Homo sapiens: one gene and its partners. The protein of the gene in region 3 purifies or fractionates together with the protein of the main gene of each other region. This does not show direct contact. Each region holds a gene or a part of one and is shown on either strand. Other genes may lie near its edges. The genes, in order: BTAF1, EXOC3, FPR1 and XPO7.

The links.
Region 1: the proteins of FPR1 (region 3) and BTAF1 purify together in Homo sapiens (co-immunoprecipitation; 2 studies listed by BioGRID and IntAct, with this or other methods). This does not show direct contact.
Region 2: the proteins of FPR1 (region 3) and EXOC3 purify together in Homo sapiens (co-immunoprecipitation; 2 studies listed by BioGRID and IntAct, with this or other methods). This does not show direct contact.
Region 4: the proteins of FPR1 (region 3) and XPO7 purify together in Homo sapiens (co-immunoprecipitation; 2 studies listed by BioGRID and IntAct, with this or other methods). This does not show direct contact.

What each region holds. Positions count from the first base shown.
Region 1 is NC_000010.11:91,926,768-91,933,804, reverse strand, and holds part of BTAF1 (TATA-binding protein-associated factor 172), read right to left. Parts: intron 2,424-7,037; exon of another isoform or gene 2,285-2,423; intron 1-2,284. UniProt on the Homo sapiens protein: Regulates transcription in association with TATA binding protein (TBP). Removes TBP from the TATA box in an ATP-dependent manner.
Region 2 is NC_000005.10:446,139-453,175, reverse strand, and holds part of EXOC3 (exocyst complex component 3), read right to left. Parts: intron 7,027-7,037; 5' UTR 6,971-7,026; coding exon 6,827-6,970; intron 6,356-6,826; exon of another isoform or gene 5,968-6,355; intron 5,838-5,967; exon of another isoform or gene 5,784-5,837; intron 5,644-5,783; coding exon 5,424-5,643; intron 1-5,423. UniProt on the Homo sapiens protein: Component of the exocyst complex involved in the docking of exocytic vesicles with fusion sites on the plasma membrane.
Region 3 is NC_000019.10:51,745,237-51,748,879, forward strand, and holds the end of FPR1 (fMet-Leu-Phe receptor), read right to left. Parts: intron 1,770-3,643; 5' UTR 1,759-1,769; coding exon 706-1,758; 3' UTR 537-705; downstream 1-536. UniProt on the Homo sapiens protein: High affinity receptor for N-formyl-methionyl peptides (fMLP), which are powerful neutrophil chemotactic factors. Binding of fMLP to the receptor stimulates intracellular calcium mobilization and superoxide anion release.
Region 4 is NC_000008.11:21,992,643-21,999,679, reverse strand, and holds part of XPO7 (exportin-7), read right to left. Parts: intron 5,318-7,037; coding exon 5,229-5,317; intron 4,189-5,228; coding exon 4,081-4,188; intron 926-4,080; coding exon 843-925; intron 590-842; coding exon 375-589; intron 145-374; coding exon 6-144; intron 1-5.

The DNA of each region.
Region 1 (7,037 bases), on a different chromosome or scaffold from region 3:
CCACTCTCTAGAACACTTTAACTGCCAAGCATCTTGAACAAGTGTTTAAAATATTATTTCCTCATCATACACAATTTAATCCATATAAATCAAGGTTCCATCTTTCTACACCAAAATACCACACCTGAAGGTCACCAATGAACTCTTAGGCTCCAAATCCAATAGTTTTTTACAAGGTCAATTTTTCTTGACTCTTCTTTGACAGCTGCGACCAGCAAGCACCCCATTCTTACAATACTTTCCTTCCTAAGTTGCACATTATATTACCCTGTTCTCCAAACTCTTCTTTCCTTAGTTCTCCTATTCTTAATACTCTTAATATGAATATCGGGAGAATACTCATATTCAATCCTTGACTGCTCAACTCTCATCAGTTTCTCCCTGAGGAAACTGTATACTGTTATTTGTTTAAATTATATCCAGAACAAATATTCCCCAAATCCAGGCCATCTGAGAGTGCCAGTTTCACACTCCCAACTGCCTTGTCATCCTGTTGCCAGATTAACTTCCTAAAACGCCCCCGAATAAATCACTACCTTACTTTAAAACTTTCAATGGCTCACACTTACCTACCAGAAAGTAATCCAAAACAAAAAGTATCTCCCAAATGTGGGTATTTTTGGTTTCCACAATTTTACCTATACTGTTTCCTCCACTCAGAATGTCTCTCACACCCCTTCAAGCTAGGGTTACAGTGGCTCACCCCTCCTCAAGGGGGTGGTTTCCTGGCCAGTTTCTGCCAGATCCCCAGAATGGTCACTGGTTGGGGTTGCAGTGGGTATGTACTCTGCCTCACTGCAACAGCAGGCAGCTGTGCAGATATAATGGCCCCATGTGTGAGACTGGGAACTGTTGGTGGGAGGCACAGCTGAGAATATGGGTATATCACCTGGAATTTAACCAGATACACCACTAGAGGTGATCTTCGGGTGTGCCTGAGCTTGCTTCTCTAACAAGAGAATAAAATGTGCTACAGCAAACAAATAAAGTATTTTTCTCTTTGTTCAACTGTTCAGCTAGCTCCCATCCAACAGGATTCAGCTGAAGTTCTTCACCTTCTTGAAACCATTTCAAACTACTATGCAACAGAGATTACTTCCTTTTCTGAAATCCACATGAATTCTCATCTTGAACAGCTACTTAAGTATTTATTATATTTTTTTGTGGCATCTCTCACATTAATTTGTCACATGAGGTCTAATTTTCCTCATTAGGCTTCATCTCCTTCAATCATTCTTTTTGTCTCGCACAACACTTTGCACAGTATTCAAATATTTGTTATGTAGTTGACATTTACTGTAACTAAAACTATACTTAAGGAAAAGTTCAAGTTTCTTGGGGACAAGTTTAAGAACCAACTTTAAGGAAAGAAAAAATATTTTATATTACCTTTTTTTTTCCTGCTTCCTTTGAGAAACATCCTTAATCTGTGACAGCAGTTTTACATAAAAAATCAGTTGGTAATGTAATGTTTCAGTAACTGAAAAGATCAGCACAGCAGTACTTCAGCCTTCTGAATGAGGCAGTTACGCTTGTCCCAAATAGCAAGCTGAAAAATGCCATGCAATAGGCACTGTATTCCTTCAATAATTTCCATCCTTCTTAAACTTTTCCTTTGGTCCTCTGCTACCCAGCTTCACTTAGAACTCCTGCCCAAAGACCTTAGACTCCTCTCTAACCTAATTGCTGATACTGTCCCACAGACACACAGTTCCTCTTGATTCTCCTTTTTGCAGATCCTTTTATCCCAATGCTATGTCAGGTCACCTCTGCTCTCCCACCAGCCAAATGCCCTGAGGGTAGCAGATCAGCTCATTCTCTCATCCATTCCAAGCCTGTTTATCCTTACTTCTTCCACTTTGGATGGTAACCAAAATTGCCTCCCTGAATAGAGGAATGGAGACACAAGAATGCTTCTTTGATTCTCTTGATTTAAAGCCACTTTCGTAGTTCTCCATTCCTCTCTTCAGGACAGCAGATTGGACACCACATAAAAGGAAGAACAAAGAGATGAGCAGACAAAGATCTGACAAGAGGGCAGTCTGACCTGTTATCTCAGGATAGCCAGCTATGAGGCAAGCAGGGTAAGCATCAGGGCCAGGCCACGGTGGAAAAGGCTGGTACAGTGAACTTGTGGGGAAGAGGAAAAGAACGTGAGACAGAGTCAGTATTATGTTGGAGGGTAGACAGGGCCCTTGGTGAGGGAGAGGTCTGAAGGAAGCTAGATGGTCAGAAGAGAAGGGAAAGTTAAAAGGAGGGCTGACTGAGGGAACACAGTACTTACTCCCATACTACTTTTGGCTAAAACTTCTGTTGCACACAGCTAGCAGGAAAAAGTAACATTCTTCATTCTCTGAAGGATAGACAGACAGATGGAGGAGACACAGGTAACAGATGTCAAGTTGCATGGAAGGTACCAAAGACTATAGAAGATAAGTAAAACATAAGAAAATTATATTTTGTAATATCCACTGGTTATAAATTTATTGAGAATAAGAAATCTGGCCCATTTTCAATCTGGATGTCAATTCCGAGAATTAGCTAAACAAGATATGATTCATGTAACCTGTGATTTCAGGCAACTGTTCTAAAGACTGCCTAGAAAAAGGAAAGAGTACATAGTAGTAGAGGTTATGCTAGCAGTTGCAATCTAACCCCTCTCCTCTCCAGATGTTTGCATTATGTTAATTCATAACAGTAAAGCCATAAAAATAAACAGAAAGAAATGTCATGCATTTTAAACAATAAAACATGTCCTAGATTACTACGTCATAGTTAATAAACAAATACATACTGTATTTCCACTCTAAAACATCTCGGGAGGGGAGGGGCAAAAAGCCTCACTGATATTTTCAAAATATATTTAACCTCTCTGATAAATTAGGAAAGGTCAACTGACAGAATACCTCAAAAAGACAGCTTTGTGGCCTTAACTAAAAAAGCATGACCAGTCAAGAGTAGCCATTTAGTTATACATTTTTTACACGTGGCAAAAGTACAGTAAAATTTTAAATATAGATGATTTGAATGTTTACTTTTCTGTGTTACTCAGGAAGTAAGGAAAGATAATGACCATTACTTAGTATAGTGTACAGTGTGTACTTAATACGTGGAACTTAGTACAGTGCACATATTATCATTAAGGTCAAAAGAAACAACTTCCAACAAATTCTCTAGTGTTTTTAAACATATACTTTCTAGGTCATGTTGTGGGTAATTTGAAACTATGTTAATGTTATGTTGTTTTAAACATAAAGATATCACACAGAACACTAAGAATCAATATGAAGGTGTGAAACCATACCAAAGCCAGGTGTAAGGGCAGGTGCTTGCTAGATAAGTTACCCCACTCTACCCTGGACCATAAACTCCATGAGAATGGAGAGTACAGTTTTTTTCTCTGCTATACCTCTAGCACCTATAACATAGAAAGCACTCAGTAAATATTGGTTAAATGAAGAATGGTGAAAATGTACAACCAAGCTATGCTATTTCCTTCAAGACATTTTTTTCTACCCTCCATCCCTGATCGAACAACCTATAGCCTCTTGCATGACTTTATCTTAATGACAAAACATAGTACATACTAATCTAGGTTCTTTAGCAGCAGTATGGGTGGTTTTAAAACTTCTTATTAATACATATTATGTATTAATATGTAAAATTCATAATACATTTTAAAGTGTATTTTTAAATGGTTAGAACAGTCTATTTTTATGTGTGTCACAATTAAAAAATTTTTAAAATAATAATTCAAACTAGTACCTTGAGAAATACGCCAAAGAAATAAGGAGGAATTTACCATTGGGATTGAAATGGAAAAGCTTTGATTAATGCCTCTTCTACTTTTTCTAGTTTATCTCTAAATTTTTAAAGTATGAGATATTTGATGAATTATAATTTACAATAGTTCCTTCTGTCATCTTATAATGGATTGAAATTAACAATAAGGGCCAGGTGAGGTGGCTCATGCTTGTAATCCCAGCATTTGGGAGGCCAATGCGGGAGGAATGCTTGAGGCAAGAGTTTAAGACCACCCTGGCCAACACAGAGAGACCTCATCTCTATTAAAAAAAAATTATTAAAAATAAATTAACAGGGAGGAATAGGCCTGGAAAACCTGTGTTGTCCTTTATTGGTAATTAAGGTAGTTTTTTCTACATTAACATTTTCCTGTCCAGGACCCACTGAACGTCCCCTACATCAAGAAACTTCCTTTTATTTGACAGAATAGGCCTGTTGAAACAATGTTGCTCTGAAGTATCAACAGTGCAAAGAGAAAATTAACAAAATTGAGCAAAGGTCTGCTATATGTAGCAATTTGTTTCTTCCACAAGAGGATGTGTTTTTGTTTTTTCTGAACCCTTTCTGAACACTGTAACATTTTCAAATGCAAAGATATGTGAGAAATCTAAGGTATGGCTTTTAAAACAGTCATATTATAAGTACTGTCTAGACATTTTAGACATGACCTTTACAGCACAGATCGCTGAGGGAAAACTATATATTTCTGAAACTTTCTCTAGCTGATTAAGGAAAAACTATGTTCCTATTAACTAGCCAATATACAATGATCAGTTCCATTAATTGTGGCATAAACAGGCAAAGGTAGCAAAAACAAGCTGTTTAAAAAATTGTATTAAGTCATGGTTCCCAACACAGCTACAGATTCCCCACCAATGAATAAACCTAAACCAGGCGCAGTGGCTCACACCAGTAATCCCAGCACTTTAGGGGCAAAGCCACGTGGATCACTGGAGCCCAGGAGTTTGCAACCAGCCTGGGCAACATGATGAAACCCCACTTCTACAAAATATACAAAAAAAATTAGCCAGGCATGGTGGTATGCATCTGTGGTCCTAGCAACTGGGGAGGCTGAGGTGGGAGGATCACTTGAGGCCGTGATTGTGCCACTGCACTCCAGCTTTCCAGCTTGGAGGACAGAGTGAGACTCTGCCTCCAAAAACAAACAAACAAACAAACAACAAAAATGCCAAAGAAATCCATCTCAGGTTGCTTTTTTTGGGGGGCGGGGGGGGGGGGGATGGATTCTTGCTCTGTTGCCCAGGCTGGAGTGCAGTGCTGCGATCGCAAAGGTTGCTTTTACCGTTGGTGGCAAAATCCCAACTAAGTAACACATGATAATGAGAAAAAGCCCCATAAAGCAAAATAATGGTGTTCAAAAATATAACACTTATTATTTAAATTATTCACAAGAAACACTGAAAGCCTGTAACATACACTAATTTGTTTTTTGCTGAGGTTGACTTTGTGGAAGCAAGTCAAGTAGCTAGTGAATGACTAGCTGACTTTCCGGCATCCGCATCTTAAGGACAACATTGTTCTCTACTCCTACATTTGGATTTTGGGTCTTTTACTAAGGGTTTAAAAGAGTCATATCATTTTCCAGTGATATTTCACTGGATTTGACAGAGAACTTCAAATGCTATGATTGTATTTACAATTTTAGAGAGTAACAAAGTTATTTTTGCAAGATGTAATTCAGCTACAGATCAAGAGTTGGCCATGCATTTCATAATCTGCCACATTCTTACAACTGAAAGTACAGTAAAACCAAGCCTATTAAGCAGGGTCTAAAAAATTTGACCACATAAAATACATCATATCAATTTTGCATTATAAATGGCCATGCTATCACAGAATTTACTATATTATAAACTTCAAAAATTATTCTAATTGCCTTCCTATAGGAGATAGCTTTAAAAAGAAAAAAATATTCCGATGATTGTTAAAATTAGAAAATGGCCAATATTAAAAAGCTATAGTGAAAGTTTTCCTTACTGCAAAAAAAAAAAAAAAAAAAGAAAAAAGGCAGTTAAACTCAAAAGTACTCACTGAAAAACACTGGAAATAGTCTACTATGCACAAATTACGGTAAAATCATACTCCTACAAATGTAGGAGTAGAGAACAATGTTGTCCCTAAGATGCGGATGCTGGAAAGTCAGCTAGTCATTCACTAGTTACTTGACTTGCTTCCACAAAGTCAACCTCAGCAAAAAACAAATTAGTATATGTTACAGGCTTTCAGTGTTTCTTGTGAATAATTTAAATAATAATTGTTATATCTTTGAATACCATTATTTTGCTTTATGAGGCAACTCATATGGCAACTCAAAAGGTACCAAAGCAAGAAGCAAAATCATTCATTCATTTTTTTTTTAAATGTACTGAACACCCACTAGGAGCCAGGCATTCTGAGCATGGAAAAATCAAAGACACATTTCCTTCTCTCAGAGTTTATGTTAATCCAGCAAGTAAGAGAACAATTAACCAATTACAAAATATAAATATTATGACTGATAGGAATATGTATTGGTGCAAATAGCTCAGATGAAGTAAAACCAGAGAAAATGTCCTGAACAAGGTAATATATAAGCTTAGATCAAAAAATTGAGGCAGGTGGATCGCCTGAAGTCAGGAGTTCGAGGCCAGCCTGACCAACATGGAGAAACCCCATCTCTACTAAAAATACAAAATTAGCCGGGTGTGGTGGTGCATGCCTGTAATCCCAGCTACTCGGGAGGCTGAGGCAGGAGAATCGTTTGAACCCGGGAGGTGGAGGTTATGGTGAGTCAAGAACGCACCATTGCACTCCAGCGTGGGCAACAAGAGCAAAACTCTGTCTCAAAAAAAAAAAAAATCAAACAAAAAAACACACTAAGGTCAGAACTAGCCATACCTGAGATGGGGCTAAGAAGTGTTCCAAAGATAAACAGTAGGGGGTAACAAAATGAATTCTGGGGAGGGTGGAGGATAGAAGAGAGAAGAAGGTGAAGGGGAAGTACAGAGAAGTTGACACAAGATGAATCTAAAAAGATGACACAGGAACCAGATCACAAAGGACTTGGTAAGATATGTTTGTTTGAGAATGTGGACTTTATCCTAAGGCAATAGGAAACAACTAAAGGTATTAATTAGAAAGATTACCATGTTCATGTTCAAATCTTCAAATCAGTAAATAATATGACTGAAGCGAAGAACAGATTGAAATGAGATGCCATGGAAGGCAGGAAA
Region 2 (7,037 bases), on a different chromosome or scaffold from region 3:
GTTAACTGTGGTCATTTGCAGCTCTCAGCTGGGCAGTGGCTACCGAGGCCCCACCTCCCACCCCGCAGGCAGCTGTGCATGTGCTGATGTGTTCCTAAAGCTGCCTGCACACAGCCTGCAGCCTGGCTGGGCAAAAAGAACCCTGTCCTCCACACCGGAGATCTGTACTCAGATCACTGACTGCTGCTTCTGACCACAGAGGTGCGAAGAGGTAAGTGGCCACTGTTGCATCTTCCCCTGTTCACAGGTCCCTCCTCACCCCCACAGAGCTCCAGGGAATTTAAAGGGCCAATGTCTTCACCACCCCCTTCATCTGTTCCCCTTCTTGAAAGCCAGATATTTATGAATGAAGACATTCAAAAGTAACTGCATTTATAGGAAAAATTCGGAAGTGGCCAATGCATGCCCAGGCAAAGGCATAGGCTCAGAAAAGACTTGACACGACCTTGAAGTTCACACCTCAGGCTGTGCCTTGGCACAGAGAGCCTACAACAACCAAAAACAAGAATCATCAACCTGGGAAGGGGATCTGATTTCCAGAGTTATCACATTATTCGATTCAAGTGTCCATTTTTCAACAACAAAAACATCACAAGGCACCCAAAGAAAGAAGAAAGTATGGCCCATTCAAAGGAAAACATAAGAAACTGTTCCTGTAAAAGATCTGATGGCAGATCTACTAGAGAAAGACTTTAAAACAACGATTTAAAGATGCCTAAGGAACTTAAAGATGTGAAGAAAGACATGTATGAGCAAAATGGAAATACCAATAATGAGACAGAAAATCCAAAAGGAAACCAAACAGAAAATATGAAGCTGAAAAGTACAATAAATGAAATGAAAAATTCACTAAAGGGATTCAAAGGCAGATCTGCACAGGCGCAAGAAAGAATCAGTGAATGTGAAGACAGGACAATGGGAAATATCAAGTATCCGGAACAGAAAGAAAAAAGATTGAAGAAAAGTGAACAGAGCCTCAGGGACCTTGTGGACATCATCAAGCAGGCCAACATATGCTTAGTGGGACTTTTAGAAGGAGAAGAGAGAAATGGGCAAGACATTATTTGAAGAAATAATAGGTGAAAACTCCCCACATTTGATGAAAGACATGAATATGAAGATCCAAGAAGCTCAATGACCTCCAAGCAAGAGGAACTCAGAGGTCCACACTAAGATACAACTTAATCAAACTTTTGAAAGAATTCTGAAAGCAGCAACTTGTCAGAAACAAGGGCTCCAAAATAAGATTATGAGCAGATCAGATTTCTCACCAGAAACTTTGGAGGCCAGAGGCAGTGGGATGACATATTCAAAGTGCTAAAAGAAAAATACTGTCAACCAAGAACCTTAAATCTAGCAAAATGGTCATTCAAAAGTGAGAGCGATATTAAGACATCCCCAGATAAACAAAAGCTGAAAAGCTTGTTACCACAAGATCTGCCCTGCAAGAAATGCTTAAATAGAGTCCCACTGGTTGAGAAGAAAGAATGCTAGAGAGCAACTGGAAGCCACGTGAAGAAGCAAAGGCCTCAAAAAAGGTAAATTCATGGACAATCGTAAAATCTAGTATCATTAACACTTCAGTTTTTAACTCATCACTCTGTTTCGTACATGACTTAAGAGACTAATATTTGTTCTGGTTAAAAGGGACAAATAAAAAAGAAACTAATACATTAAAAAATAGTCTAAAAGCTACTAATACTGTAACTTTGGATTCTAACTCCACATTGTTTTCTACCTAATTTTTAAAAATGAATGCATTAAAAAACAATTATTAGTCTATGATTTTGGACACATGATATATAAAGATGTAATTTTGTGAAATGAACAACCCAAAGGGAGTGGAGATGAAGCCATATAGGGACGGTTTTTGTGTGTTATTGAAGTTAAGTTGATATAAATTCAAACTGAAGCGAGATAATGTTAGATGTTAAGTGTAATCTTTATGGTAGGCACAAAGAAAACAGCTATAGAATATACGCAAAAGAAACAAGGGAATTAAAATGTTTACTACCAAAATAATCAAAAGCACAAAAAAAATGCAGAAATAAGAGACAAAAATGTTATACCGCATATAGAAAACAAACAGCAAAATGACAGAAGTCCCTTCTTATCAGTAATCACTTAAATGTAAGCTCTTCCATCAAAAGAGGTAGGCAAAATTAATTAAAATCTTCAATCAAAAGAGGTAGACAAAATAGATTTAAAAAATAAAACATGATTCAACTCTATGTGTTCACCAGAGACTGACCTTAGAGCCCAAGACACAAATAGGTTGAAAGTAAAAGGGTGGAAAAAGATATTCCATATAAATAATAACCAAAAGAGAACAGGAGTGGTTATACTAATAAATATGAAATATACTTTAAATTAAAAAAAAAAAAACTAGTCACAAAGAAGGCCATATGTATTAATAGAAGGTTCAGCAAGAAGATGTAACAATTATAAATATTTCTGCATTTACTAACAGACCGTCAAAATACATGAAGCAAAAATGGATAGAACTGAAGGGAAAAACATTCAGTTCTGTAATAGTCGGAGGCTTCAATATCTCTCTCTCAATAATGGACAGAACAAGCAGACAGAAGCTAAACAAGGAAAGAGAGGACTTGAACAATGCAACCAACCAACCAGACTGAACAGACACAGAAAGAACACCCAACAACAGAACACACACTATTCTCACGTGCACATGGGACAGTCTTCAGGAAAGACCATGGATTAGGCCTCAAATTAAGACTCAGGTTTTTAAAAGATAAATATCATACAAAGTATCTTCTCCAAACTCAACAGATGACATTAGAAATCAGTATCAGAAGGAAAACTGTAAAATTCACCAATTTGTGGAAATTAAACAACATACTCTTAAACAATTAATGGGGCAAAAAAGGAAACATAAGGGACTTTTGTTTTGTTTTGTTTTGTTTTTCAGATGAAGTCTCGCTCTTGTCCCCCTGGCTGGAGTGCAGTGGTGCGATCTCGGCTCACTGTGACCTCTGCCTCCTGGGTTCAAGTGATTCTCCTGCCTCAGCCTCCTGAGTAGCTGGGATTACAGGCGCCTGCCACCACGCCCGGCTAATTTTTATATTTTTAGTAGAGACGGGGTTTCACCATGTTGGCCGGGCTGGTCTCAAACTCCTGACCTCAGGTGATCCGCCTGCCTCAGCCTTCCAAAGTGCTGGGATGACGGGCGTGAGCCACCGCACCCAGCCATAAGGGATATTTTTAAAAACCTAAGAGAAGAATGAAAATGCAGACGAATCAGAAACCTCACACACTCATGGTGGAAAATGCTGCAGCCACCGGAGGAAACAGTCTGGCAGCTGCTCAAAGATTTAAACATAAATTACCACATGGTCCAGCAATTACACTTGTGTGTATATACCAGAAAGAAATAAAAGTAAAACATCTGTACACCCATGTTCACTACAGCATTATTCACAATAGCTAAAACGTGGAAGCAATTCAAATGTCCACCAACAGACAAACGGATAAGCAAAATGTGGTCCATCCATACAATGGAATATTATTCAGCCTTAAAAGTGAAGGAAATTCTACAATACCACAGCATAGAAGACCCCTGAGGACATCATGCTGAGTGAAATAAGCATGTCACAGAAAGACAGATAATGTGTGATGCCACTTCTATGAGGTCTTCAGAGTCATCCAATTCACAGAGACAGAAGGCAGAATGGTGGTGACCAGGAGCTGGGGCAGAGGGTGCGAAGTCAGTGTTTAATGGGTACAGATTTTCATGTCTGCAAGATGAAAAGAGTTCTGAAGACGGATGTGGCAATGGTTGCACAACAATATGAATGTTCTTAATAGTCCCCAACTGTACACTTAAAAATGGTTAAGACGGCAAACTGTACATATGCATTTTAGAAGAAGAAAAAATGGGGGAGGGGAGCTGTGTACACAGCATTGCTGAGTTATAGGCAATGAGACAAGTCTGAAGGCAACCAAACCAATCTTCTCAATGAAAATTTATCCGTAACAAAAAACATGCATACCACGCAGGCTCATTTGTTCACCAAGGAAAGGAAATTATTTTCAACTGCTGTGGATAAACTAATTCCAGTAATGCACCTTTTTGGTCATCAGGCATTAGTTTAAAAGACCGGAAGGAAATGTAGCCAGCCAATACGAAATAAGAGGAAATTAACTAGAAAGCTGCCAGCTGAGCATCACCAAGGAGACTCCGTCGAGAGGACTTTATTCCTGTTCCAGGCGGCCCACAGTCACCAAGAAGAGCTGCTTTCTGAGTTGGCAGCACAGTGGCGTTCGTGTTGGGCATGCACAAAGAGACACGGACTGCAGCCACACATGTGACCCTACGGATCATGCCCTGGAAGAAGGGCACACACAAAGCAACGGGACAAGGTGCTCGGCAATGCTGCAGCCGCAAGCACGAGAGGAGGGCAGAGAGGACAGGGTGGACGGGACACGGATTACCAAGGTGCGCTGTGGGCAGCTGGGGAGAACCGCGCCAATTCACACGTGGCCTCAGGAGCCGAGCAGCGTCACAGATGATGCAGCACAGCCACTGTGAAGGGTGAGCTGGGGCACGTGACGGCTGGGGATGGGGAAGTGTCATACAGACATCAGGGCAGAGACGTCTGGTAGAGGAACAGGAAGAACTTGCCAAGAGGCCAGAGACAGGAACAAAGAAAGGGAAGGAATCAGACCCTGCCAAGGCTTCTGAGTTGGGGACTGGAAGGATGCTGCTGACCTTGACACAGAGCGGGGACCAAGGGGAGGGATGAGGCTGTGGAAGCAGCTCCTGTCACAGCAAGCAGGAGGAGACTGTGAACACAAATGCTGGGAGCCACCACCCAGGGCCAGCTGGCACCGTTCAGGGACAGGTTACAGGGCCCTTGGCATCCTTCTAACTGAGGCATTCAGGGAGAAGACTGAAAGGGTCACTCCCCCACGGCGCTCAGCCCCGCCTCTGCCCTGGCCTGTGCACACACGCTTCTCCTCCTGCCTGGGAGCTGCTGCTCGCCTCAACCCTTCTGCTCTGGGATCTGCTTGCTCTGTCCCATGCACAGGGTGGCTTCTCCTGCAGCTCCTTTTAAGCATGGGCCACGGCGTCTTCATTCTTCTGCACTCACAGAGTCTAACAGCCACATCGCAAGCAAGGGAACGACACTCAGCCAGGGAATCCCTCCACACTGCATTTGCTGGGCAGCCCGCTTCTGGGCCTCTGTCCTGACACTGAACTACAAGCCTTCTCCTAGCCTTTACATGCTCAGCTGATCACTTCCATCCACGTTCAAAAAAAGACGCTGAGCAGACAAGAATCACACTTACCGTCTACAGGTCTACAGTGCGGGCTGCAAAGCACACTGCACACAGAGCACTCAGTGAGTCATGCAAAGACAGCGTGAGTGGGGGCAAGTGCCTCGGCGTCTGGCTGGTACCTGAGAAGATGTTCTTGAGGTTCTCCACGGCTGCGGCGAGCTGGCTGTGCTGCACCACGGCGTCTTTGACGTCCTTGAGGCTCTCAATGGTGTTGATGCTCTGCCTCCAGTCCTTGCTGACGTCTGCCAGCGACTGCTGGATGTCTTTGACGTCATTCAGGGCGTTGTGGAGCTGGCTGAGGCCTGTGCGCACCCCGTCCAACTGTGACTGGATGGCGGCCTAAAGAGAGACGCCACACGGGTGAGCAGAGCCAATGATAGCCATGCGCTGCCTCCTGAAGAACAAATCTTCCCCAGGAGGGTCAAGTTCAGGAAAGAGCCACTGAGTAGCAGGAAACAGTCAATACCCAGAAAAGAAAATAAAATCAACAAGGATTTAATTGATTCACAGTGTACCTTTTTCTTCATTGCTGCCTGGGAACAGAACAATGATGCATTTTAAAGCCTTGATGAGAAAAGGTCAGGACACTCCTCATCTAGCCTCACACCTGGTGATCCTGGACACTACCACGGGTCTGCCCTGGGCCGTGGCCTGCTACGGTACCTTCAGAAGGATGTCACCCATGCTCTCCCAGGCATCCTAGGTTCCTAAAAGGTCTTGTCTAGGCAGAGAGAACGGTCAGGACTTCACTGGCTTGGGGTGGGGGAGTTCCTGCTGTTCAGCCAGCACCACACTTGGCCCCAGGACGGCTGACCCACAGGACAGAATCGGCACCTGAGCTTCAGATCCGCTCTCTGTCAAATGTGAGTTAAAACAATCTGAACAAAATGCCCTCTAGTGGTGCTCTGTAGAAGAGCTTTAAATAAGACTACTTCTCCTTCCTCCAGTATTGTTTAAAAACTTAATAGACACTTTCAGGGTGTTGTTTTTGTTTCTGTGTTTTTTTTTTCTTTTTGAGACAGAGTCTCACTCTGTTGCCCAGGCTGGAATGCAATGGCACCATCTCGGCTCACCGCAACCTCTGCCTCCTGGGTTCAAGCGATTCTCTTGCCTCAGCCTCCCAAGTAGCTGGGATTACAGGCGTCAACCATCATGCCTGGCTAATTTTTGTATTTTCATAGAGACAGGGTTTCACCATGTTGACCAGGCTGGTCTTGAACTCCTGACCTCAGGTGATCCGCCTGCCTCGGCCTCCCCGAGGTGCTGGGATTACAGGCATGAGTCACCGCACCCGGCCTCAGGGTGTTTAAAAGCTTGTTCCTTTGGTGTTTTCACCATTCCCACTGTCTTCTAAGCAAAGCTACTGAGTGGTAATACACTGCTGAAAGTAACTGCTCAAGAAAGTCCAGCTCTGCCTCCTTGCACATTACCATAAAGGCTAGTTTAGCAAAATCATCATGGTGATGTCAAGCAAGAACCTGAAGCCCAAGACAGATCCTGGGAGTGGGGCAGGTGGCCTCACCTTCAATCTGGCCTCCACGGAGGCCTTCTTCCGCGCTTCTCTCCTGCGATACTGCTCCACCTTGTCCAGCTGGTCCGGGCGCTGGAGCATCCCAGCAACCCTTTGCACTGCTGTCGCAACGGCCTCCCGGTCTGTCTCCTTCATGGTGAAAAAGCTGGTGGAATCCTCACACTGTTCATGCTAGGGGTGTTCTCTGTGCACTGCAGGAGTT
Region 3 (3,643 bases):
CCTCCGCCTTCCAGGTTCAAGCGATTCTCCTGCCTCGGTCTCCTGAGTAGCTGGGATTACGGGAGCCTGCCACTACGCCCAGCTAATTTTTGTATTTTTAGTAGAGACAGGGTTTCACCATGTTGGCCAGGCTGTTCTCGAATTCCTGACCCCTGGTGATCCGCCTGCCTCGGCCTCCCAAAGTGCTGGGATTACAGGCATGAGCCACCGCTCCTGCCCTATATAAAGTATCTTCTTGTATATCTTGTCTGATTTAAGCCATACTCTTTCACACTTCTCCCTCCTCCTTCATTTACCTAGGATGACTATATAATTTATTTTTCACAGCAGGGCACTTTTCAGAATGGAAGTGGACACTACTCATCATGATGCCAGAATGATGGGTATCATTCACTACTCATAATTCAGGACTAATAATAATGGGTATTATTTGGGTTCATTTCAGGCAAACTAGGATGCAGATGACAGCTTCTTCCTATCATTTCCCACCCTGACCACCCAAGGCTGAGGTCCAAAATCAAAAAAGAAGTCAATAATAAACTCATATCTGTTTATTCTCCCCAAATCAGGGGACACAAAGGCTTTTTTTTTTTTTTCTGATGAGTGGGTAATCCTAAAATAAGCAGGAAATGCCTGTGGCTCAGCCTAACTCAAGGTGAGACGAAGCTGGAGCTGGGAGCTCGAAAGTGTCCCCCAGCTCCCTCCTCACTTTGCCTGTAACTCCACCTCTGCAGAAGGTAAAGTAGAATTGGTAGCTGTGTCACTGGTTTGGGTTGAGTCCTCGGTCAGGGCCCTCTCCAGACTGGCGGGAAGGGCGTGGATCAGCCTCTCCCGGAAGTCCTGGCCCATGAAGACATAGAGCATGGGGTTGAGGCAGCTGTTGAAGAAGGCCAGGGCACTTGTCACATCCACTGCAATACCAATTTCTTTGTACATGCCTTGCAATAACTCACGGATTCTGACTGTGGCTATAAGGGCCACCACCTGATATGGGGACCAGCAGAGAAAAAAGGCTGCTGCGACAAAGGAGAGGACCCGTAAGGGACGACTGGACTTAATCAAGCCTTGCTTGTGGATCTTGGTGGCAATAAGCCCATAACTGACAGCAACGATGGACATGGGTGCGCTGAAGCCAATGATGAACCGGATGATGCCTCTCACCGTCAACATGGCAACGGCCACATTTATCCTCTCTTTAGGGTCGTTGGTCCAGGGCGAAAAGTTAAAAGTGCAGGCTACTGTCCCCGTTTTACCAGGTACTGTAGTCACACGAATGATAACTGGCAATGTGAGGAGCAGAGCCATCACCCAGGGCCCAATGATCACCTTCTTGGCCAGGCTCACGGTGCGGTGGTTCTGGGTCCAGACTGGATGCAGGACGCAAACACAGCGGTCCAGAGCAATGAGGGCGATCAGGAAGACACTTCCGAACAAGTTGATGTCCACTATGGTAAAGACGAATTTGCACAGGAACCAGCCGAAAGGCCAATGTCCTCCCATGGCCTTCCTGACCATGAAGAATGGCAAAGTGGAGGTGAAACAGAAGTCAGCCACGGCCAGGTTCAGGTAACTGATGGTGGTGACTGTGTGTGTCATCCGGAATCCAGCCACCCAGATCACAAGCCCGTTGCCCAGGACCCCGAGGACAAAGGTGACTGCAAATACCAGATAAGTGATGATATCCAGGAAGAGATAGCCAGCAGATACAGCAGGTGTCCCTCCAGAGATGTTCGTGGGGAGAGAGGAATTTGTCTCCATCTTGTCTGCTCCTGAAATAGTGCAGTCGTGGTCATTCCTCAGTTATGAACCTCCGTACCATTTCCCCACCCCCTCATTTCTGCCCCTGCCAGTTTTCCCACTCCTAGCTTTCTCACCTTCCCCTAGAGCTCCCACAACAGCCGGAACATCCTCACCACTGTCCCTTACACATGCCCACATCTATACATTGGCAATCTTTTATTGTACCTGTTGGGCAAGATTACATCTTTTTTTTTTTTTTTGAGATGGAATATTGCTCTGTCACCCAGGCTGGAGTGCAGTGGCGTGATCTCTCACTGCAACCTCCACCTCCCGGGTTCAAGCAATTCCCCTGCCTCAGCGTCCTGAGTAGCTGAGACTACAGGTATGCACCACCCCACTCCTGGCTAATTTTCGTATATTTAGTAGAGGTGGGGTTTTGCCATGTTGGCCAGGCTGGTCTTGAACTGCTGACCCCAGGTGATCCACCCACCTCAGCCTCCCAAAGTGCTGGGATTACAGACGTGAGCTACCACGTGTGGCCAAGATTGCATCTTATGACACATCCTCATAATTGCTAACATGCAAGCCCCTACCAGGGAGATTAAATGGCTAAGGAAGATAGGGTCCTTGACCTCCAAGAGGAGAATATGGGGCCAAAGATGTATAGAGAAAACATGTATTCAAACAAAAATGTTCATAGAGACACTCCTCCCTATAGCCAAAAGGTAGAAACAACCCAGATGTCCATCAACAGATGAATGGATAAACAAAATGTGGTTTATCCACCCAATGGAATATTATTCTGCCATAAAAAACAATGAAGCACTGATATATGCTACAACGTGGCTGAACCTTGAAAACATTACTCTAAACAAAAGAGGGCTGGATGTGGTGGTTCACGCCTGTCATCTCAGAGCTTTGGGAAGCCGAGGTAGGAGGGTTGCTTGAGCTCAGGAGTTCATGATCAGCCTGAGCCACATAGCAAGATCCTCATCTCTAACAACAACAACAACAAAATTAAATTAAATTAGCTGGATGTGGTGGCACACACCTGTAGTCCTAGCTACTCAGAAGGGTGAGATGGGAGGCTCACTTGAGCCCAGGAATTCAAGGTTAATAGTGTACTATGATTGAGCCACTGCACTCCAGCCTGGGCAACAAAGCAAGACCCTGTCTCTAAAATGAAAGAAAAAAGAAAGGAAGGAAAGAAGGAGGAAGGAAGGAGAGAAGGAAGGAAGACACCACAAGTCACATTTTGTATGATTCCACTTGTATGAAATATCCAGAGTAGCCAAACTCACAGAGACCGAATGCAGATTAGTGATTGCCAGGGACTGGGGAAACTAGGAAGTGGGGAATTGTTGCTTAATGAATATGCAGTTTTTGCTTGGTGTGATTAAAAAGTTCTGGAACTAGATAATGGTTATGGTTGCAACACACTGTAGATGTACTTAATGCCATTGAATTGTACATTTAAATGGGTAACTTTTTTATTGTTGTTTGAGACGCAGTCTCGTTCTGTCACCCAGGCTGGAGTGCAGTGGTGCGATCTTGGCTCACTGCAACCTCCGCCTCCCGCGTTTAAGTGATTCTCCTGCCTCAGCCTCCTGAGTAGCTGGAATTACAGGCACTTGCCACCATGCCCAGCTAATTTTTATATTTTTGTAGAGATGGGGTTTCACCATGTTGGCCAGCCTGGTCTCAAACTCCTTGACCTCAGGTGATCTGCCCGCCTCGGCGTCCCAAAGTGCTGAGATTATAGGCGTGAGCCACTGTGCCCAGCCTAAAATGGTTAACTTTTTGTATTTTACCATCAATTTAATAAAGGAAAAATAAGAGCATAAGATATCAGAAAATCAGTGGGCGACAGCTTCAGTGACCTAGTGTCACACAAACGTGGACT
Region 4 (7,037 bases), on a different chromosome or scaffold from region 3:
CTTACCAAGTGCAGTAAGTCCTTCAGAAATGGAAGAGAGAATATACATGATGACGTGAGGTTCCAGGCTTGCAATAAAGTTCATATGGTCCTGGGTCAGGACTTCCAGTAGTGAATAATAAGACTGGCTGAGCTTGGGGTAATCCTGTGGGAGAGGAAGAGGAAGAAAATCAGCTTAGGCACTATGCACTCCAGCATGCAGGGAGACGATCTTAAATAGCTTAGCTCCTTTTAGGTGGGAAAACAGAAGACTTAGTTAGAGCAAAAGGAGCTAGCTTACATAGTTTCTCAAGAGCAGTGTTCAATCTTGGTCTCAGGTGAAAAAGGCTGAATGTGATGAGGAACAAGATTGTGGCAATGCAGCGTAAGGCTTACCAAGAGATCACTGTGAGGAATAGAGAGGAGCAGCTTGATGAAGGTCTGCAGAGCATTGTCCAGGGCATCGTCTCCATAGAGACGAAAGACTCCGAAATTGACGTAACTCCCACTGAGAGCAGCCTTCAGCATGGAGAAGCAGATGGAGATGCCCTTGAGCTTCAGAGCATAGACCTGATCCTTTGGGACCTCTCCTAGTGTCAGGATGCGATTGCCTGAGTAGACATGTCATATATGTTTATTCAACCACATTAGAAGCGCTCGTTTAGATCAGCCTTCCTACTCCAAAGGCATACAAATTCCAGTAGGCCCCTGGTGACAGGTGGCACTCTAATGCACATGTATTAGCATACAATACGAATGCTGTCCTGGCTCCTGCCAGGACTGGCCAGAGACCCACATGCTGCTTACAGTGTGGTGACTGAGCTGGAATTAACTTCTAGAGGCATGATTATCTGAAGCACTTACCATACATTGTTATCATCTTGCTGGTTTCTCGGAAGAGTAAGATGCCATTGGGGGAAGAGACATCAAACTGGAGTCGCTGGGACCTGAGCAGAGAGCACAGGAGGAGAAAAAGTCAGAGGTGTTTTCTTGGAAGACTGGGGTACTTGAGGCTCTCATCTGAGTACCTTGGGTGATCCTGCATTTACATTAAGGTAAGCAATTGCCTATCCTAATATGAGAATAACCAAGTTATAGATATTTAACCATGAAGTAGCTTCTATATTGAAGACCAACATGCTAGATTCAGATTCTGCTGCTCAAATTAAAAACATTTATAAGAAAAAAAAAGCAGCAGTAGATAAAATTACTATTTGAAAATTCTCAATTTTATTTGATTAAAGTATACTTTCTTTTTTTTGAGATGGAGTCTTACTCTGTCGCCCAGGCTAGAGTGCGGTGGCGCAATTTCGGCTCACTGCAACCTCTGCCTCTCGGGTTCACACCATTCTCCTGCTTCAGCCTCCCAAGTAGCTGGGACTACAGGTGCCCGCCACCACGCCCAGCTAATTTTTTGTATTTTTAGTGGAGATGGGATTTCACCATGTTAGCCAGGATGGTCTCGATCTCCTGACCTCGTGATCCGCCCGCCTCAGCCTCCCAAAGTGCTGGGATTACAGGCGTGAGCCACCGTGCCCGGCCTTGATTAAAGTATACTTTCTACCCGTCGCCTCTTGATACTAATGCAGAGCCCTTCAGCCATTAGTTGGCATGGACCTTTATGGCTTCAGTGGCAACTGAGGGAGAGGGGCCAAAGCATTGTTACCATTTTATATGAAGAAAAGATGCATAGGGACTTGGAATGGTCCAAAAGAAGCCAGACAGAGAAGGCCATTTGTAACCATCTTGGTTTTAAGTTCCTGACTCTTTTGTCTGCTCCACATTTTGATGAGCTTTATTAGATTCAAGTTGGTAAGACCTCAAAAGCCCAGGAGTCCTTCCTCCTTCCTCCCCCCCACCACACTGAATCCATCAACATCTAACTCTAAAATAAACCCCAAATCCACCTTTCCCTTACATTCTCTCTGCTTCTACTCTTACCTGCCTTTAGTCCCATTCTTCACATGGTAGCCTTTAAAAAACTTAAATGAGATCATTTTAATCCTTTGCTGAAAACACTCTAGCGGCTTCCCACAGCAATGAGAATAAATGCCCACTCCTCACTACTGCTGTGCGAAGGCACTAGATGATCTGGCTCTGCTCACTGGTCTGACCTGCTCCCACAGCCTCCCCCCACCAACCAGGCTCCTGCCACAAGTCCCAGCAAGCCTGTCCTATCTCAGGACTCGTGCAGATGTTTTCTGTTTAGAAGACTCCTTATCTTTGCAGGGCTACCAGAATCTTTCTTGTCATTTAGATCCTAGTTAATATTACCTTCTCTGAGAGGTCTTCCCTGACCCTCCTGTCCTTCAATTCCCCTCTATTTTACTGCCTTGTTTTATTTTGTTTCATGGCACTTAATCACTGGAAAGATCTTCCATACTTGTTTTTATTGTGTGTCTTCCCCACCATTTGTAACATCAAAGAGGGTAGAGATTTTGTCTGGCATAGTGGCTAGGAAAGTTTGGCAAAGAGTAAGTGCTCTCAAGTATCTATTTTATAAATGAGTAACTCTTGAATATAAGTCTCCTGGGAGGTTATAGCCTCTTTAAATATTACCCACTCCATAAGGTTGTTTTAAAACTTATTAATTCTGCTAGGCCTGGTGGCTCACGCCTGCAATCCCAACACTCTGGGAGGCTGAAGTGGGCGGATCACCTCAAGTCGGGAGTTCAAGACCAGCATGACCAACACGGAGAAACCCCGTCTCTACTAAAAATAGAAAATTAGCCGGGCGTGGTGGCGCATGTCTGTAATCCCAGCTATGTGGGAGGCTGAGGCAGGAGAATCGCTTGAACCCAGGAGGCGTTAAGTTGCAGTGAGCCAAGACTGCGCCACTGTACTTCAGCCTGGCGACAAGAGAGAAACTCCGGATCAAACATAACTAACTAAATAAATAAATAAAATAAAAATAAAGAAAAAAAACCTTACTAATTCTCTCAGGACCGCCATGAGAGACCAATGCCCATACCTGAAATTCTAGGAAAGCTAAGGTGCTAGACTTTTCTTTTTCACTGTCCTTAAATTGTTTTGAAAATCTTGCTCACTTTTTAAAAGTAAATTTTTATTGATCCTGCCACAACCTCTCTAATAAATACCTTTCTTAAGAAAGGGTATTCTAATATCTATCATATCCTTCTCAATGTCTCTAACCATGAAATGTGATGGACAAGGCACCATTACCAGATGTTAATTTCTTATCTGTGGGCAGGAAATCAGAATCTTGGTTGCCAAATTTACTTCTCCTAAGAGTAGACATCTGGAGATTCTTTTTATTTTACTTTTTTGAGACAGGGTCTTGCTCTGTCACCCAGGCTGGAGTGTAATGGCATAATCTTGGCTCACTGCAACCTCTGCCTCCCAGGCTAAAGCAATCTTCCTACCTCAGCCTCCTGAGTAGCTGGGACTACAGTTGTGTGCCACCATGCCCAGCTAATTTTTTGTAGAGGTGGGTTTCACCATGTTGCCCAGGCTGATCTAGAACTACTGCATTCACGCAATCTGCCCACTTCGGCCTCCCAAGAAGCTAGGATTACAGGCATGAGCCACCATGCCCCACTGGAGACTCTTTTTAAAAGTGACTTATTAGATGGGCGCAGTGGCTCACGCCTGTAATCCCAGCACTTTGGGAGGCCGAGGCACGCGGATCACGAGGTCAGGAGATCGAGACCATCCTGGCTAACATGGTGAAACCCTGTCTCTACTAAAAATACAAAAAATCGGCCGGGTGTGGTGGCGGGTGCCTGTAGTCCCAGCTACTCCGGAGGCTGAGGCAGGGGAATGGCGTGAACCCAGGGGGATGGAGCTTGCAGTGAGCCGAGACTGTGCCACTGCACTCCAGCCTGGGAGACAGCAAGACACCGCCTCAAAAAAAACAAGACAAACAAACCAAAAAAAGTGACTTATTTCCTGCAGTTGACTATGGTTTTGTGTAGTTAGGAATACTATTCTTTCACACAAACAAAAACACAAAAACTTTTCGAATTTTAAAATGCAGTAGTGAATCTTATTATTTCCCACAATCTGCCCAAAGCACTAGATACAGCAAATTCTCTCAGATAACAGGGCAGATGTGCCCTTGCAAGCTCTGCCTCCTGCTTACCTATTATGAACCAATTCAGCCATCAACTTGAGTACAGGTGTAGTACAGGCTGGATCATGGTACCAGAGCTCAATTGCCCGTTGGAGAATTGGCATATAGGATGGATATCTGTAAATGAGAAGCTAAGGAAAGATTTCTGATTCCAGAAAGGTACAGAATTTAAAATAGTTTTTCAGCACTAGCCAAGCAAAAACTTGTCAAACTACAGTTCTTTAAGTTCCTGTCTCTTGCTTGCTAATCTTGGAGTCTTTCTAACCAGAAGATACTAAAGTGATTTTGTGTTCTTTAACCTGTGAAAGGCATCTCATAATACATTTTAGTTTACATAGGGCCTTTCTTCTGAAGAGCATGATGTATTTCATACTGTTATTTGTCCTTTCATCACTTCTATGGTATTATATGGGATCAGCTCATTTCCTTTACATAACTATTAAAGAGGCACCTGGATTTGAAATAATCTTCACAAGGGTATGAAGTCAGTAAAGTTAGACTTCCTAATTTGTAAAAGCTGTTTATTATTATTATTATTATTATTTATTTTTTTTTGAGATGGAGTCTCGCTCTGTCGCCCAGGCTGGAGTGCAGTGGCGCGATCTCGGCTCACTGCAAGCTCCGCCTCCTGGGTTCATGCCATTCTCCTGCCTTAGCCTCCCAAGTATCTGGGACTACAAGCGCCCGCCACCACGCCTGGCTAATTTTTTGTATTTTTTAGTACAGACGGGGTTTCACCGTGTTAGCCAGGATGGTCTCGATCTCCTGACCTCGTGATCCGCCCACCTCGGCCTCCCTAAGTGCTGGGATTACAGGCGTGAGCCACCGTGCCTGGCCTTTTTATTTTTTTCAGCAGACTGAAACATCTCTCTAAATATAGCAAAACCAACAGTTCTACAGTGGTATATGGTTCCACAGGCATTTATATTTGAGATCCAAAAGAGAAACTGGGAGACTACTTCATTCATGTTCTAATCTCAGACAACCTTATGTCTGTCATAAGGTGGCTTCCAGGACACATGCAGGCCTTCTGGCTAACTCTTCATCTTCTCTGCCTCACTACCCTCCCTTCCCCCTACACCGTCTCTGGACCCTATCACCCAATCACACTCCAGTTAAGGCAGGCTGTAGTGTGCTCCTAGTTTGAGTTAGGATACATCCATTCAAAGAGCATCATGAAGCTGGTCTTGGCATTGAAAGCGAAAGCGATCCCTCTCAGGTCTCTTACTAGGCCAACTAGAGTTCGCTGTAGTAGAAGGCAAAAATGTGTTAAAATAGAAGAAAAGACAAAACTGTAACAATCTGATGAGGATTCCACACATGTATCATCAAATTCTTTCTCTCACAGTTCAACATATACTCCTTCTCAAATATTCGGATTCAATATCTTCTATGCTAGAATGGCATATTTTCATTCTAGCAGTGGAAGTTTGTTTTGGAAGTTTGAAGTTTGTTAGCTTTGGAAGTTTGTTATGCCAAGAAAATTAGCTTTGGAAGTTTGTTTTGCCAAGAAAATACGTTCCTGGTTCGTAGCAAAAATAGAGGCTGATAAGGTTTTAAGACATTGAAGTAATACATCACATGTAAAAAGTGAAAAAGCTTTGAGTCCACCCAGGGAGGAAAGGAGGGGAGGGAGGGGGAGAGAGGGTGGGGGGCGGAGAGAGAGACAGAGAGAGAGAGAGAGAGAGAGAGACACGGCAAAGAAACCAACTCAAAAAGCCAGAAAAAAGCAAAAAAGAAAAACAGAAGTCCCAAAGAAGAAGAGGTAGAAGAGCCATATATACCCTAAAGGAAGTCAGATGCAGGCCCTGCCAGGAGGAAGACAAAGGGGAGTCTACACAGCACCTCTCTCTTTGGGTGGGCCATCTAGATAAGACTATGTTTAATCAGTACTCTCCATTTGCAGAAAAAGAGACTGAGGCTTAAAGAGGCCAAAAAACTTCCCCCAGTCATGTTGCTAGGTAGCAGGAGGGTCCAGATCAGGACTCATACATAATACCAAGACTCCAAATCCAATACTCACTCTCTCAATAAAACTTTTACTTGGGACATGAACAGCAATAAAACTACTATAAAAATCATAGTTTGGGGGTTGTCTCCAAACGTGGAGACAGAACAACAACAACAACAAAATGTGCTCAAGAAGGTTGTACATTTGGGGATCTTGACACGTTTGGCAAAAACGACATCACTTCTGTTAACAGTCTGCTTGTAAGCAAACAGTTCTCTCCTAAGCTGATACCACAAGCTCAGTTTTCCAGTCTAAGACTTGGTCAGTCTCTTAAAAGACTTTACATGGGACATGACAAAGAAGTGGGTGACAGCTGTAGTCCATTACCAAGGTTGTTCTTTTGGTTAATTTTACTTGCTTTACATGAAACTAATACCATATAATGGGAAAAAGGGCTGATATTCACTGATATCCCTAAATCCTTGATATTGGTTGATACTCTAGCCTAAAGTTGGTAATATGTTCCACAATAACCCAAGCTTTGAATGGTACCTATCTCAGACTCTAAAATACAAGTATAATTAGGGGAGAGAGGGTTGCATTAAGTGTTGTTGCTTTCTGTCTACCCTGCTGATTTGTAGATGGAAAAAGAAAAGGCTAAAGATGAAAAAGGAGAGCTTTAGAATGCTAGGTAAAGCCTGGCATTTTTTTCTGGCAATACCCTGGCTAGCTGGTAGTTCTACCATTCAGCCTTGGTGCCCTGAGGAATACTGTAAAAAGTCCTACCAATAGTAACATCCTGGTGTCTTCTGATTTGGACACAGATCTATACAGGTCAAGAGAACAGTATGTATGAAGTAAAAAGATGAAGAAAGCAACAATCAAGAAATGACAATTCTAAGAGCTAGAAAACAAGAACTTAAAATTCCATATATGTGGAAATTCACTGGGCATCGTGTCTCGTGCCTATAATCCTAGCCACGTGGGAAGCTGGGGCAGGAGGACTGCTTGAGCC